Linked DNA regions of Homo sapiens. The protein of the gene in region 4 interacts with the protein of the main gene of each other region in a pairwise test. Each region holds a gene or a part of one and is shown on either strand. Other genes may lie near its edges.

Region 1 (3,500 bases), on a different chromosome or scaffold from region 4:
CCTTCTTGGGGGCTACAATCAGAGTGTTCTCTTTCTCCTCCAGACTCTAGAGCACAAGTTATCTGCATCATTCACTCAGAACTTCAACCGGTAATCTATTTTTATGTCACTCATTTCCTTTAACGATATAAATGATTACATTTTGTTTCATATTTTTTAGTATATTTTGTCTAATTAGTCTGAATCTTGTGTTCATCCCATAATGGCTTAGCATGATAAACGATCAATAACTATCCATTAGTGTGATTCTTCCCTTTGTCTTCTTCCTCTTCTAGTCTTTTCTTCTAGGAAGGCTAGGGCTTTTTCTAGTCCATCCCTTCTGAGATGAAGAAAGGTGGAGTCAGCACTGTTTCCTCCTACTGGGAGAACCCTCTGACAGGCAGTGATTGAGGAAATACCATGATTTACACTATTACTAATTATTTTACACTCTTCTGAGATACAGACTGGAGGAACTCCGGTCTATAAAGTAAGTATATTAATCTAGCACTGTCACTCAATCAAAATGTTTATGTATTGTATAGCTCTGTCTGAGCCCTATATAAAAAGGGAAGTCGAAATTTAAAAAAAATTAACATCACCACCCCCAATTTTGTTGTCTTGGAATATAATATTCTGCTTCATTCCTTTTAACAAATATTAATTGAGCACTCATTCATCAGGAGGATCTTGGGGACATATCAGAACAAATAAAAACACTGTCTTCATGGAGCTTATACATTCTTAACAGATATCTTCTGCATCATTTGTACTTCATGTAATAAGACTTATGTTGCAAACACTGTTATTGAATCACATTTTCATTAACAGGCATATGCTATGTATTATATTAGTTACTAATAAATCTAAAGTGTAAAGGGCAAAGAAGTTAAATACTACTGATTTCAACTATTTACCTTTCAGCAAACTAGTTAACAAAAACTGAAAAAACCTGAAGCTATGCAATAAATACACAATAACTCTATAAATAAAATGTGGTCTTCCATGAAGAGATAGGATAGGGAAGGGTAGCGTTGGCTGCTAGCTTACTATCTGTTCTAGAGAATAAGCAGAAATGGAGATAAGCTCAGTTCTGAGAGACAGAAAATAAAGTGTGAAGAGAGAGAAAATATCCCCAATTATAATAAAATGAAGGATAAGACATTATATCTGAAGAGGGATAAGGGCCAGGAAAATCGCAGCATGGAGATATGAAAAGGAGGCAGATGAAGGTAGAACAGGGAAGGGCCTAGAAGTACAAAGTGGATCCACTATAGATTTTCAATAAGGAAACTAACCCCAAAATTTCTTGTTTGGTAGAATCTTAGAGGAGGTAAAGCTTACAGTAATGACAACATCAAATAGACAGTACCTAAAATAGATATGTAAGTAGGAAGATTTCGGTTTTAGATAATAAGCTTTTTTAGCTTTAGAGTTAACACACAAACAAAAAAATTAAACCCTATTTAATTTTTAGCCCTGAATTAAGTCCTATTAATAAAGCACATAGAGTCCAATAGATGTTCAAAGCATATAATCATAGTCAACCCCTTACCTTTAAGGATGTCAGTTGATCTGCCCACATTTCTATTACAGGAACAAGATGCTCAAATCCACAATCTTGAACAAGATCTTTATTAAAATTTTGGACTCCCCCTTTGGTCTGTTTATAAATTATTACTGGAGCTCTTGGATTGTGGATAATTGAATTGATGCTACACAGCACCTTTAAAAAAACATAGTGTATATAGTCAAAATATTTATCCTATGCCTACAAAGTTATATATTTTAAAGGAGTGCTTTATGTCTATATATATTATATACACATATTTCATTAAATATACAAAGAAAATTATCATAAGGAATTGGCTCATGCAATTATGAAGACTGACAAGTCCCAAGATCTGCAGTGAGTAAGCGAAGACCCAGAAAAGGTAATGGGTATTTGCAGTCCAAATGCAGGCAGACTGAGACCCCTGCAAGTGCTAATGTTTCAGTTTGAGTCTGAAGGCAAGAAAAAAACCAGTGTCCCATCTTGAAAGCAGTCAGGGAGGAGGAGCTCCCTCTTATTCAGCCTTTTGTTCTACTCAGGGCTTTGAATCATTGGATGAGGCCCACCCCATTAGGAAAGGCAGTCTGATTTACTAAAGTCTACTGATTCGGATGTCAATCTCATCCAGAAGCACCTTCCCAGACACATCCAGAATAATGTTTAACCAAATATCGGGCATCCTATGCCGCAGTAAAGTTGAAACAAAATTAACTATTACAAACACTACCTAGGTTCAAAAATTGTTAGTATTTTGCCATATTTGCTCACTATCTATATTTTTAGGTGAACCATTTGAAGAAACTCTTCACCCTCAAATAATAAAGCATGCATCTTTTAAAAGTAGGCATATTCTCCTACAAACTCACAAGAACATTATCAGACTATTTAAGGAAATTAACAGCAATCCCCAGGCTGAGTGTGGTGGCTCATGCCTGTAATCCCAGCACTTTGGGAGGTTGAGGCAGGAGGATCACTTGAGCCCAGGAATTCAAGGCTGCAGTGAGCTATGATAATGCACTTCAGCCTGGGCAACAGAGCAAGACCCTGTCTCCAAAAATAATATCATTGATGCCTGGATTGAATTTTAGGTATCTTAATATATTAAGATAGTATACTATTTGACTATAACCCTCTCCCCATAAGTGATGGGTTCTACCTTACATATCATCCGAGGAAAAAAAGGGAGACCTCAAAAAGCATGTTTAAAGAGAGAAGAATAAAGCCATTTCCTATTACCACCATCAAGTTCAGCCTATTTAATAAAAAGTTTCACAATATAAAGATAGCATTTTGCTCTTGAATCTTTGTCCCTGGTCATACTTCAAGATATAACTAATAGGCCTCCTGGTAATATGACTTAAGATGTTTATTACTTCAGATGTTTATTTAGAAGCTTTTTAAGTCCAAATTAGTATAATTCAATATTTCACTTCAAATTGATGTATGTATATTTGTTTTATATATTTATTTGACAGAGTCTCACTCTGCAGCCTAAGATGGAGTGCAGTGGTGTGAACGGAGCTCACTGCAGCGTTGAATTCCTGGGCTCAAGTGATCTTCCCATGTCAACCTCTCAAGTGCTAGGACTACAGGCACAAGCCACCATGCCCAGCTAATTAAATTTTTTTTTTTCTAGAGATGTGGTCTCACTATATTGCCCAGGCTGGTCTCAAACTCCTGCCCTCTAGCAATCCTCCTGCCTCGGTCACCCAAAGTGTTAAGATTACAGGCATGAGCCACCATACCCGGCTTGAATTCCCCTTTTAAAGGACAAAGCCTCTCAAATTGAGTCTCAGAAACAAAATGAAATCCAGTTATATACTGGTACAAGAAAGTCTAAAACAAAACAGTTTTCAGAAAGGTGCTTGGTTCCCATTTACAATAGCAATAAAAGTTATAAAATACCTAGGAAATAACAAGGTATTTCCTAACAAGAAATATGCAAGAGCTAAATTTAAAAATACACAAC
Region 2 (4,013 bases), on a different chromosome or scaffold from region 4:
ATACAAACAAATTAGCTGGGCGTGGTGGCGGGCGCCTGTAGTCCCAGCTACTTGGGAGGCTGAGGCAGGAGAATGGGGTGAACCTGGGAGGCGGAGCTTGCAGTGAGCCAAGATCGTGCCACTGCACTCCAGCCTGGGCGACAGAGTGAGACTCTGTCTCATATATAAAAAAAAATATATATATATATATTTTTTCCTGAGAATCTGATGAAATGTAATCAATTGTTAAACAAATGTATAATGAATATTTGCCGGGCACAGTGGCTCACACCTGTAATCCTAGCACTTTGGGAGGCTGAGGTGGGTGGATCACCTGAGGTCAGGAGTTCGAGACCAGCCTGGCCACAATAGTGAAATGCTGTCTCTACTAAAAATACAAAATTATCTGGGCGTGGTGGCACATACCTGTAATCCCAGCTACTTGGAAGGCTGAGGCAGGAGAATCACTTGAACCCGGGAGGCAGAGGTTGCAGTGAGCTGAGATTGTGCCATTGCACTCCAGCCTGGGCAACAAGAGTGAAACTTCGTCTCAAAAAAAAAAAAAAAAAAAAGAATACCTATTATAGGTCAGGCACCATGATAGGTACTGGGAATACAAAACTATTGTGAATTGAATATCTGTGTCCCCCAAAAATCCATATGTTGAAATCCTAACTCCCAATGTGATGGTATTAGGAGCCTTTGGGAAGTGATTAGATCATTAGTGTGGAGCCGTCATGCATGGGATTAATGCCCTTATAAAAAGAGATGGGAGAGCGTGCTCTCACTCTCTGCCATCTGAGAATAAAACTAGAAGACAGCCACCTGCACACCAGCCAGAGGGTCCTCACCAGACACCAGAAATGCCAATGCCTTGATTTTAGACTTCCCAGCCTCCAGAATGGTGAGAAATAAATGTGTATTGTTTTTAAGCCACCCAGTGTTGGTAATTTGCTACAGCAGCGCAAACTAAAACAAAAACAGTCTCTGCCTTCATGGAGCTTATAGATGAGAAAGGAAGATAAATATTTAAATCAATAAATATGAAATTGCAGTTAAAATAAGTACTATGAGACCAGACAAGAGGAGTAGCTGATCAAGTCAGGAAAGTAAAAAAAAAGCTTCTTTGGGGGTGACATTTGAGCTAAGCTTACATTTACTGAAAAAAAAAAACAGTAAAATTAACACGACAAAGAAGAGAAGAGTCTTCTAGGTATGAGGAAAGGCCCTGATATAGGAATGAGCATGGCAATTACAGGGGATAGAATGCCACTGTGTCTAAACTTGTCCCTGGACAAATGCATCTAGCATTTTGCATAAAATTTCAGAGACAGTGACATCCTGGGGTCCGTCCATAACCCCCAATTTTTATTCTATGGATGAACCCCAGGATGTCAGTGTCTCTGAAATTTTATGCCATAACTATGTGCATATGCCATATGACAGTGGTGGGAGGGCAAAATGGTATAACTCCTATGGAGGAGAATTTGACAACATCTAGAAAATCACATATGCATTCACCCTTTGACTCATCAATCTTGCTTCTTGGATCCTATCTCAAAGATATAGTTGCAAAAATATGAAATGGCATATGCACACAGTTATTTGCAGCATTATTTACAATAGTCACACTGAAGCACCATCTAAATGTTCATCAAATTGGGGATTAATAAGAGCAACACAATGGATTATTATGCAGATGTACAAGAGAATGAAGAAACTAGAGAGTGATCTCTAAGACACAGAATAAAGAAAACGAGGTGCTGAAATTGTATATGGTCTGTCATCTTTTGTATTAGCAACAGCAGTGGGGAAAGGAATGTGTATGTGTGTATATGTAAACATAGTCATAAAAACTCTAAAAACGGAAAACAAACTGGCACAAATGAACCTAATTCCAAATGAGGTTGATATTGGTGTCTCAACCATACAGAGAAAAGAATTATTACAACTGACTTTGGAACACAGTATCTTCACTGTATTTCTTCAGTAGGATATACCTGAAAGACCAAAACGCTACACAGACATCTCAAAGTCATTTGAAGTGAAGTTAAAAAAAAAAAAAAAAAAAGGTGCACAGACTCCTGTTGCTGCTCCAGAAGGATAAAATGTGGGAAGGGAGGAAGGGGACCATTATCCCTAAAGAGAAAACTTCTGGCCTACCAGCGGGGCCAGGTCAGGGGAGGCTCTGTCTCGGATTTCTGGGCATATCAGTGGGACCCAGGCAAGGCCTGCCAACTCCCTTAGCATGTTCCTGTCTGTGAAACGAGGATAATACCCATCTCTCCTGTGGTAAGCAATGTTATTTTTCACATACACCAATAGGCATCTTGGCTCAACATAAGAAAGCCCTTTCCCACAGAAACAGCTGCCTCCAGCGTGAAGAAGGTGCCACAGAGATGGAAGGAGATTCCTTACCCACACCTGGGAGACAGCTAGCCAGCCAGCCAGCCAACTGGGCGGGGGCACCCGGGCAGGGGTGCCAGATACAGTATTGTATCTGGCAACCTCCCGGGGCGCTCAGTGTGGTTTTCCCACCCGGGAGTCTGGAAGGGTCTCCCGCAGCCCGCAGGAGACGCAGCGCTCCCCGCTCAGGGGGAGCAGGAGGACAGCTGGCCGCTTTCGGGAGCCCCAGGCGCGAAGCGGCCTCTCTCCGCCTCAGGTGAGTCCTGCTCGACGCCCAAGGCCCAACGGTCAGAACCGCCTCTGCCCGCCGGACCCAGCGAAGCTAGGGGAACAAATCCCAAAAACAGTTCGGGCCTTTCCGGTGCGCTCACCCCTACACACGCGCCTGCTCGCCACCCAGGAGCGGCGTCCCGTTGCCAGGCAACGAGAGCTCGCGCCTCAGGAGCCAGTGTAGGCGCCGCAAAGCGGAAGGGGCGCGCGGATAGGTGAGCAGAGGGCACGCGGTGGGCAGCGAAGGGGGAACGCGCAGCAGAGAGGAGAGGGCGTGCAGGAGTAGGAGCAGGCGGCAGAGTAGAGGGGGCGCGGCAGAGTAGAGGGGGCGCGGCAGAGTGGAGGGGGCGTGCAGGAGTAGGAGCCCGCCGCAGAGTAGAGGGGGCGCGGCAGAGAGGAGGGGGCGTGCAGGCGCGGGGCGCCCGGCAGAGAGAAGGGGTCGTGCGGAAGGGGGCGCGCGCCAGGGGAGGGGGCCAGAGAGGAGGGGGCGTTCAGGAGTCGGGCCTGCGGCAGAGATGAGGCGGTGTGCAGGAGGGAGAGCGCGCACGAGGGGGCAACGGGCAGAGAGGAGAGGGAATGAAAGAAGGGGAGCGTGGCAGAGAGAAGCGGGCGCGCTCCAGGGGGCGGGGTCCAGGGAGGAGGGGGAGCGTAGGATCGGGGCGGGAGGCAGAGAGGAGCGGGCACGCGGGACGGGCGTGTGCTCGTGAGGGGTCGAGGAAAGGCGTATGTGGAGGCGCGCGGGGTGGGTGAGCCGAGGAGACTTGCTACACAGAAACCTGGAGGAGTAGGGGCACACAAAAGAGCAAGGGACCCTGACTGGCAGCCCGGCATGCTCTGGGAGAGACAAAGAGGTGGCGGGCTTTGAGGAGGAACCAGGAAGGGCAGCCAATCGGAAAAGGGTGGAAGACCTTCCAGAGTCCCTGGAAGACCGTCACTGCAAGCTGCTAATAGCTTGGCAGTTTCACAACTCTGCACCTTTGCTCTTGCTGGTGACCTCTGCTTGGTTCCTTTCAGAACCAATTCGGGTGCCCCACCACCGGGAAGCCGTCCAGTCTCCACCAGGCCCAAACCCTTGCAGTCTTCCCTGGCCTAGTCGTCTGTGCATGTGCTAGCCTTTCCTGTGCTCTCTTTCAGCTTATGGGCGGGGCAGTGCCAGGCAAGAGAGGCCTTAATAGATGTTAGTTGAGCTAGTAAATGCCAGATTGGGCGTGGAAAAATCAAAGGGAAGCATGAGGGCAGGTGGCAGAACTCTCTCAATGAATAAGTCAAGAAATATTTACAGAGCTCCCAGTGTGCCAAGCGTGGGCGGTATACAGTAAACAAAGACAACCCCTATTCTTATCACCTTGCCTACTGAG
Region 3 (3,500 bases), on a different chromosome or scaffold from region 4:
AGTGCCCATCAAGAGTCCTGTAACTCAAGTCATTTCATGTAGCCAGTCCTATTGGATTTTCCAACATGGATGCCCTTTCTTTAAGAACAAAGATTTCTTAAAGGGAGGAGCTGAACTCAGGAGGGATCACAGTAAGAAAATGGAAATGTGACCAGGCGCGGTGGCTCACGCCTGTAATCCCAGCACTTTGGGAGGCCGAGGTGGGCGGATTACCTGAGGTCAGGAGTTCGAGACCAGCCTGGCCAACGTGGCAAAACCTCATCTCTACTAAAAATACAAAAAGTCGGGCATGATGTTGCACGCCTGTAATCCCAGCTACTCAGGAGGCTGAGGCAGGAGAATCGCTTGAACCCAGGAGGTGGATGTTGCAGTGAACCGAGGTTGCGCCATTGCACTCCAGCCTGGGCAACAGAGTAAGACTCTGTCTCAAAAAAAAAATCAAAATAAAAGTAAAAGTAAGAAGATGGAAATTTGCTTAGCTGTGAAAGGAAAGGCGATCTGTCTGATGTCCTGTGTTTGGTGCCTAGGTGGGCTTGGTGCTTGCATTTCCTGCGTTGCAGTGTCAGGATTTTTCAGGGATCAGCCTTGGCACTGGAGACCTTCACATTTTCCATCTGGTTACTATGGCACACATCATACAGATCTTACTTACCTCATGTACAGGTAACTCTTGCCTTTTTGTCAGTTTCTTGAAGGAAATACTTGAGTTTTCTGAGTTTTAAAAAAAGTATTAGAGGAAAAGGTATTTGGATGAGAATAACACATGAATAAGGCTGTTTTTTTCTGTGTATCTTCATATGAAAAGTTTTGAAACATTTCTTTCTCCTCTTAAAATTTCCTAGTAATGTGAATGTTTCTAGTTTTAATTTCATACATTCAGTAATATTTGTGTAGAATAGTAATTAAATCTTTTAGAATCTTATGTTTTAGAATGCCAATTTTGTTTTAACTTACATGTTTGTTAATGCCCACATGAATTCATCATTAAATTACGTTTTGCATTCAAAATTCTTGTTTTTCATACACTTTAAGACTATATTTATTTGATTTTACTTAAAACATGCCAGCTGGCTGTTTGGTTTGATTGAGATCAATACTGTGCTCCCACTTGAGGGATTACAATTTTGCATGTTTTCTAGGAATACTTCATGTTATATGTGAGTTTATGAATATATTTGCATGCTTAATGTCTTCAGTCCTTTTGATAACACTTAATTGGAAAATACAGAGTACTAGTATTTCCTTATCTTTCAGAAGAGAATGGCATGGATCAAGAAAATCCCCCTTGTGAAGAAGAATCAGCAGTTCTTGCTTTGTATAAAACACTTCACCAGTATACGGGAAGGTGAGTTAGTTATCTTTACATAACGCATTTCCCTAAATATTGCTAGATGATGATAGCATGAGAAAGGAATTCGTTTGTTAATTAGGGGAATTTGTTGTCTGTTGACATGTTTTTAAAATAAGACGTGGAGTGATCTGCAGAGCCTTTCTGAACTATTCATATACTAACATAATTGGAAATCTGGGAGAAAGGTGATAATATGCAGAGCTTCCCACATTTATTTGGCTGTGGAACCCTTCATTTGCTCAGGGATCTGGCAGAGACTAGAGGATAGATCAAATGTACTTTGGAAAGTTGATACTCTAAAACTTATGTTGTCTCATTCAGAATGGGAATTTAAAACTGCAAGTTAAATTGGCATAATTTATTTTTAAGGTAATATTCAGTAGTAGCAGGAATAAAATGAAATTATTAGAATTCCATGTATGGTTAGAGTCATGATTTGCTACAAATAGCAATTCAGTAGTTTGCTTAGCTTTCAACAGTATATATGTCAAGAATCTGTAGTCAGGAACCTATAAAAATGTCTGTTTTTTGACTATCCCATTTCTGAGAACCTACATTAACAAAATAATTCAACATATAGAAAAAAAACATATAGGCATATAAAGATGGACACTCCAGCCAGGCACGGTGTCTCACCCCTATAATCCCAGCACTTTGGGAGAATGAGGCTGGCAGATTGCTTGAGCCCAGGCATTTGAGACCAGCCTGGCCAACATGGTGAAACCCTGTCTCTACCAAAAAATACAAAAATTAGCCAGGCATGGTAGCATGTGCCTGTGGTTCTATCTTCTCAGGAGGTTGAGGTAGTCAGATCACCCAGGCAGGTGAAGGCTGCAGTGAGCCATCACACCACTGCACTCCAGACTGGACAAAAGAGTGAGACCCTGTCTCAAAAAGAAAAAGATGTACACTCTGATATTATTTATATTAGCAAATAATTGAAAGCAATCTAAGTGTTTGCAGGGGAATAGTTTGATATAGTGATGAATGTGTTCCAAAATATTATAAATCTATTTAAAATATGGCTCCTAGGAGCTGGGTGCAGTGGCATGTGCCTGTAGTCCCAGCTGCTCAGGAGGCTGAGGTGGGAGGATTGCTGGAGCCCAGTAGTTTGAGTCCAGCCTGGACAACTTTTCATTTTCCACATTTTCTCTTTATGTCACTATGTTACTTTTATAAATTTTAATAACATCACACCTGTAATCCCAGCACTTTGGGAGGCCAAGGCGGGCAGATCACAAGATCAGGAGATCGAGACCATCCTGGCTAACACAGCGAAACCCCGTCTCTACTAAAAATACAAAAAATTAGCCGGGCGTGGTGGCAGGCACCTGTAGTCCCAGCTACTCAGGAGGCTGAGGCAGGAGAATGGCGTGAACCCAGGAGGCAGAGCTTGCAGTGAGCCGAGATTGTGCCACTGCACTCCAGCCTGGGCGACAGAGCGAGACTCCGTCTCAAAAAATTTAATAACAGCATTGGAGGCTGTGTCACCACTTACACCTGGCATCCTATAATAACACACACCCACTTGCCTGTTAACTCACAACTTTTAAGCATACATGCCATCAGTTCCAAATGACAGTCAAGTCTGTTTTCACACTATAAGTACAGTGACCTTTTCTTAGTAGATTTCCCAATAATCTTTTTTTTCTTTTTTAGTGCCTTGAAAGAAATACCATCCGGCTGGCATCTGTGGAGGAGTGTCAGAGCTGGAATCATGCCTTTCCTGAAGTGTTCTGCTTTATTTTTTCATTACTTAAATGGAGTTCCTTCCCCACCCGACATTCAAGGTAATTTATACTTTCTTTCAAAACGTAGGGAGAGTTAGTAATCCTTTACTCCAGCAAATATAAAGATCACTTGCAAAAATGAAAATTGACTAAAAGTTCAAAGAATAGCTTATTGACTATGGTGATGTACACATTTATAGCATAAAATGTATGTTTATGCATATGTCTCCATTTATTTGGATCTCAGTAAATGACTGTTAAACTTCTGTGTAAATGTTTTTACACCTGCAAAGCCCTTCTCCCGTAAAGATCATAGTTTTGCTTTCAGATGTTAAAATGTTCAGTTATGTATTATTCATAAACAAGGTTCCTCAGATTTGAAAAGGTGAAAACTGACAATTTCAAGTGATTTTTAACTT
Region 4 (3,500 bases):
GCCCAGATCCCCATCCTGGTTAAAAAACTGCTCATGCCTATAATCTCAGCACTTCTGGGAGGCTGACATGGGAGGATTGCTGGAGCCCAGGAGTTTGAGACCAGCCTGGGCAACACAGTGAGCCACTGTGAGCCATGATCCTGCCACTGCACTCCAGCCTGGGCAACATAGCGAAATACTATCTCAAAAAACAAAACAGGCTGGGCACAGTGGCTCACACCTGGAATCCCAGCACTTTGGGAGGCTGAGGCGGGTGGATCACTTGAGGCCAGGAGTTCAAGACCAGCCTGGCCAACACAATGAAACCCCGTCTCTAATAAAAATACAAGAATTAGCCGGGTACGGTGGTGGGCACCTGTAATCCCAGCTACCCGGGCAACTGGGGCAGGAGGATCAGTTGAACCTGAGAGGCGGAGGTTGCAGTAAGCCAAGATCATACCAATTGCGCTCCAGCCTGGGCGACAGAGCGACTCCATCTCAAAAAATAAAAATAAATAAAACTGTGAGCTCAGCGGCTGGACCCCCTGGGTTCCCACCCCTGCCGTGCCACCTCTTGGCTCTGCGCTTCACCTCTGTGCCTCAGTGTACCACTTTGCAAAACGAGCATATTTAAAACTCATGTCAATGATAGAATGATCGAGAGAGTGCTGTTCTCTAGGCAGAGGTTACCGCAAGCTGGGAGCCACAAGGGGACCTGCCGGGTGATGGAAATGTTCCTTATCTTGATCTCGGTCAGAGGTCAGCACGCGTTTTCCAGAAAGGGCCAGAGAGTCAATATTTTTGGCTTTGTGGGCTAGACAGTCCCTGTCTGCTTTGTAGTTTGAAAGCAGCCACAGACGATATATGTACACTGTAAGCGTGTCTCTATTCCAGTAAAACCTTATTGGTAGTACACGCGGAAGTTTGAACATTGTAGAACTTTCATGGGCAATGAAATATTATTCCTTTTTTTGTTTTTTTTTATTCCCCCAACGATTTAAAAATGTAAAAATCAGTTTACCTGTGGTCCCAGCTACTTGGGAGGCCGAGGCAGGAGGATGACTTGAGCCCAGGAGTTGGAGTCTGGCCTGAACAACATGGCAAAACTCCATCTCTTTTTTTTTTTTTTTTGAGATGGAGTCTCACTCTGTTGCCCAGGCTGGAGTGCAGTGGCGTGATCTAGGCTCACTGCAACCTCTGCCTCCCAGGTTCAAGGGATTCTCCTGCCTCAACCACCCGAGTAGCTGGGACTACAGGTGTGTGCCCACCACACCCAGCTAATTTTTGTATTTTTAATAGAGACGGGGTTTCACCTCGTTGGCCAGGCTGGTCTTGAACTCCTGACCTCAGATGATCTGCCCACCTCAGCCTCCCAAAGTGCTGGGATTATAGGTGTGAGTCACCATGCCCGGCCACTGCATCTCTTAAAAAAAAAAAAAATAGTGAAAGCCATTCTTAGCTCTTACAAACTATAAAAACAGGCTGGCCCACCAGCCAGCATTTGCCAACTCCTAGGCTGGCTGATGGTTTCCTGGGTGGATGCATATGTAACCTGTTCCTCTTGCCCACCTCACTGAATGCATTTTATTTATTTATTTATTTTGAGACAGAGTCTCACTCTGTCGCCCAGAATGGGCGTTGGAATGCAGTGGCGTGATCTCAGCTCACTCCAATCTCCGCCTCTCAGGTTCAAAGATGCCCATGCCTCAGCCTCCCTAATAGCTGGGACTACAGGCATGTGCCATCATGCCCAACTAATTTTTGGTTTTAGTAGAGATGGGGTTTCACCATGTTGGCCAGGCTGGTCTTGAACTCCTGACCTCAAGTGTTCTCCCCTCTGCAGCCTCCCAAATTGCTGAGATACAGGTATGAGCTACTGCACCCAGCCTGAATGCATTTTATCTTTTATCTTTTTTTTTTGAAACGGGGTCTCGCTCTGCCATCCAGGGTGGAGTGCAGTGGCGCAGTCATGGCTCGCTGCAGCCTCGACCTCCTGAGCTCAGGTGATCCTCTCACTTCAGCCTCCCAAGTAACTGGGACTACAGGCGTGCACCACCACACCTGGCTAATTTTTTATAGATCTAATTTTTTAGAAAGTAGAAGTAATGGGTTGGGCATGGTGGCTCACGCCTGTAATCCCAGCACTTTGGAGTCAAGAGATCAAGACTATCCTGGCTAACATGGTGAAATCCCATCTCTACTAAAAATACAAAAATTAGCCGGGCGTGGTGGCGCACGCCTGTAATCCCAGCTACTTGGGAGGCTGAGGCAGGAGAATTGCTGGAATCTGGGAGGCGGAGGTTGCAGTGAGCTGAGATCACACCACTGTACCCCAGCCTGGGCGACAGAGTGAGACTCAGTCTCAAAAATAAAAAAAATAATAATAAAAAATGGACATTGTCAAGCCAGGCATGATGGCTTGCACTTGTAGTCCCAGCTACTCAGGAAGCTGAACGAAGAAGATCGCTTGAGGCCAGAAGTTTGAGACCAGCCTGAGGAACAGAACAAGACCCCATCTCTACAAAAATTAGGCCGGGCGCGGTGGCTGACGCCTGTAATCCCAGCACTTTGGGAGGCTGAGGCAGGTGGATCACCTCAGGTCGGGAGTTGAAGACCACCCTGACCAACATGGAGAAACCCCATCTCTACTAAAAATATAAAAAATTAGCCGGGCGTAGTGGTGCATGCCTGTAATCCCAGCTGTTTGGGAGGCTGAGGTAGGAGAATCACTTGAATCCGGGAGGCGGAGGTTGCAGTGAGCGAAGATCACACCATTGTACTCCAGCCTGGGCAACAAGAGTGAAACTCCATCTCAAAAAAAAAAAAAATGAGCTGGACGTGGTGGTGCATGCCTTTAGTCCCAGCTACTCAGGAGGCGGAGGTAGAGTTGGAGGCTGCACTGAGCTATGACTGCGCCCCTGCACTCCATCCTGGAAGACAGAGCAAGACCCTGTCTCTAAAAAAAAAAATTCAGGTTGGGCATGGTGGCTCACGCCTGTAATCCTGGCACTTTGGGAGGCCGAGGCGGGTGGATCACCTGAGATCAGGAGTTCCAGACCAGCCTGGCCAACATGGTGAAACCCCGTCTCTACTAAAAATACAAAAATTAGCCAGCCATGGTGGTGCAGGCGTGTGGCTGGAGGAGAGTGAGTGAGGGGCTGCGTGGGAGGAGAGGTGAGGACAGAGAGGTCGGGGGCAGATCTTGCAGGGCCTCGGAGGCTGCTGTGGTTATGAGGGCATCTCTGACTCCCCTTACTCTGGCCTCCTCTCTCCGCCACAGAGCTCCCCCATCCAGGAATCCACTGCTCCCGAGCTGCCTTCGGAGACCCAGGAGACCCCAGGCCCCGCCCTGTGCAGGTGACACCACTCCCTGGCCCCCTGTCCACCACCCCTGCCCGCTGTCCTTGTTCTCACCAGTGGCCTCTCTCCACAGCCCTCTGAGGAAGTCACCTCTGACCCTCGAAGATTTCAAGTTCCTGGCGGTGCTGGGCCGGGGTCATTTTGGGAAGGTGAGGTGGAGG

Evidence for each region. The genes of interacting proteins can lie anywhere in the genome.
Region 1: the proteins of PKN1 (region 4) and CEP70 interact in binary tests that used the Homo sapiens proteins (3 or more experiments, as listed by UniProt).
Region 2: the proteins of PKN1 (region 4) and DYDC1 interact in binary tests that used the Homo sapiens proteins (3 or more experiments, as listed by UniProt).
Region 3: the proteins of PKN1 (region 4) and UBR2 interact in binary tests that used the Homo sapiens proteins (3 or more experiments, as listed by UniProt).

The regions. Positions count from the first base shown.
Region 1 is NC_000003.12:138,503,761-138,507,260, forward strand, and holds part of CEP70 (centrosomal protein of 70 kDa), read right to left. Parts: intron 1,706-3,500; coding exon 1,535-1,705; intron 118-1,534; coding exon of another isoform or gene 76-117; exon of another isoform or gene 1-75.
Region 2 is NC_000010.11:80,353,956-80,357,968, forward strand, and holds the start of DYDC1 (DPY30 domain-containing protein 1), read right to left. Parts: upstream 2,801-4,013; 5' UTR 2,757-2,800; exon of another isoform or gene 2,305-2,756; intron 529-2,304; exon of another isoform or gene 406-528; intron 1-405. UniProt on the Homo sapiens protein: Functions as part of axonemal radial spoke complexes that play an important part in the motility of sperm and cilia. Plays a crucial role during acrosome biogenesis.
Region 3 is NC_000006.12:42,675,529-42,679,028, forward strand, and holds part of UBR2 (E3 ubiquitin-protein ligase UBR2), read left to right. Parts: intron 1-527; coding exon 528-663; intron 664-1,254; coding exon 1,255-1,345; intron 1,346-3,010; coding exon 3,011-3,141; intron 3,142-3,500. UniProt on the Homo sapiens protein: E3 ubiquitin-protein ligase which is a component of the N-end rule pathway.
Region 4 is NC_000019.10:14,464,306-14,467,805, forward strand, and holds part of PKN1 (serine/threonine-protein kinase N1), read left to right. Parts: intron 1-3,259; coding exon 3,260-3,336; intron 3,337-3,412; coding exon 3,413-3,488; intron 3,489-3,500. UniProt on the Homo sapiens protein: PKC-related serine/threonine-protein kinase involved in various processes such as regulation of the intermediate filaments of the actin cytoskeleton, cell migration, tumor cell invasion and transcription regulation.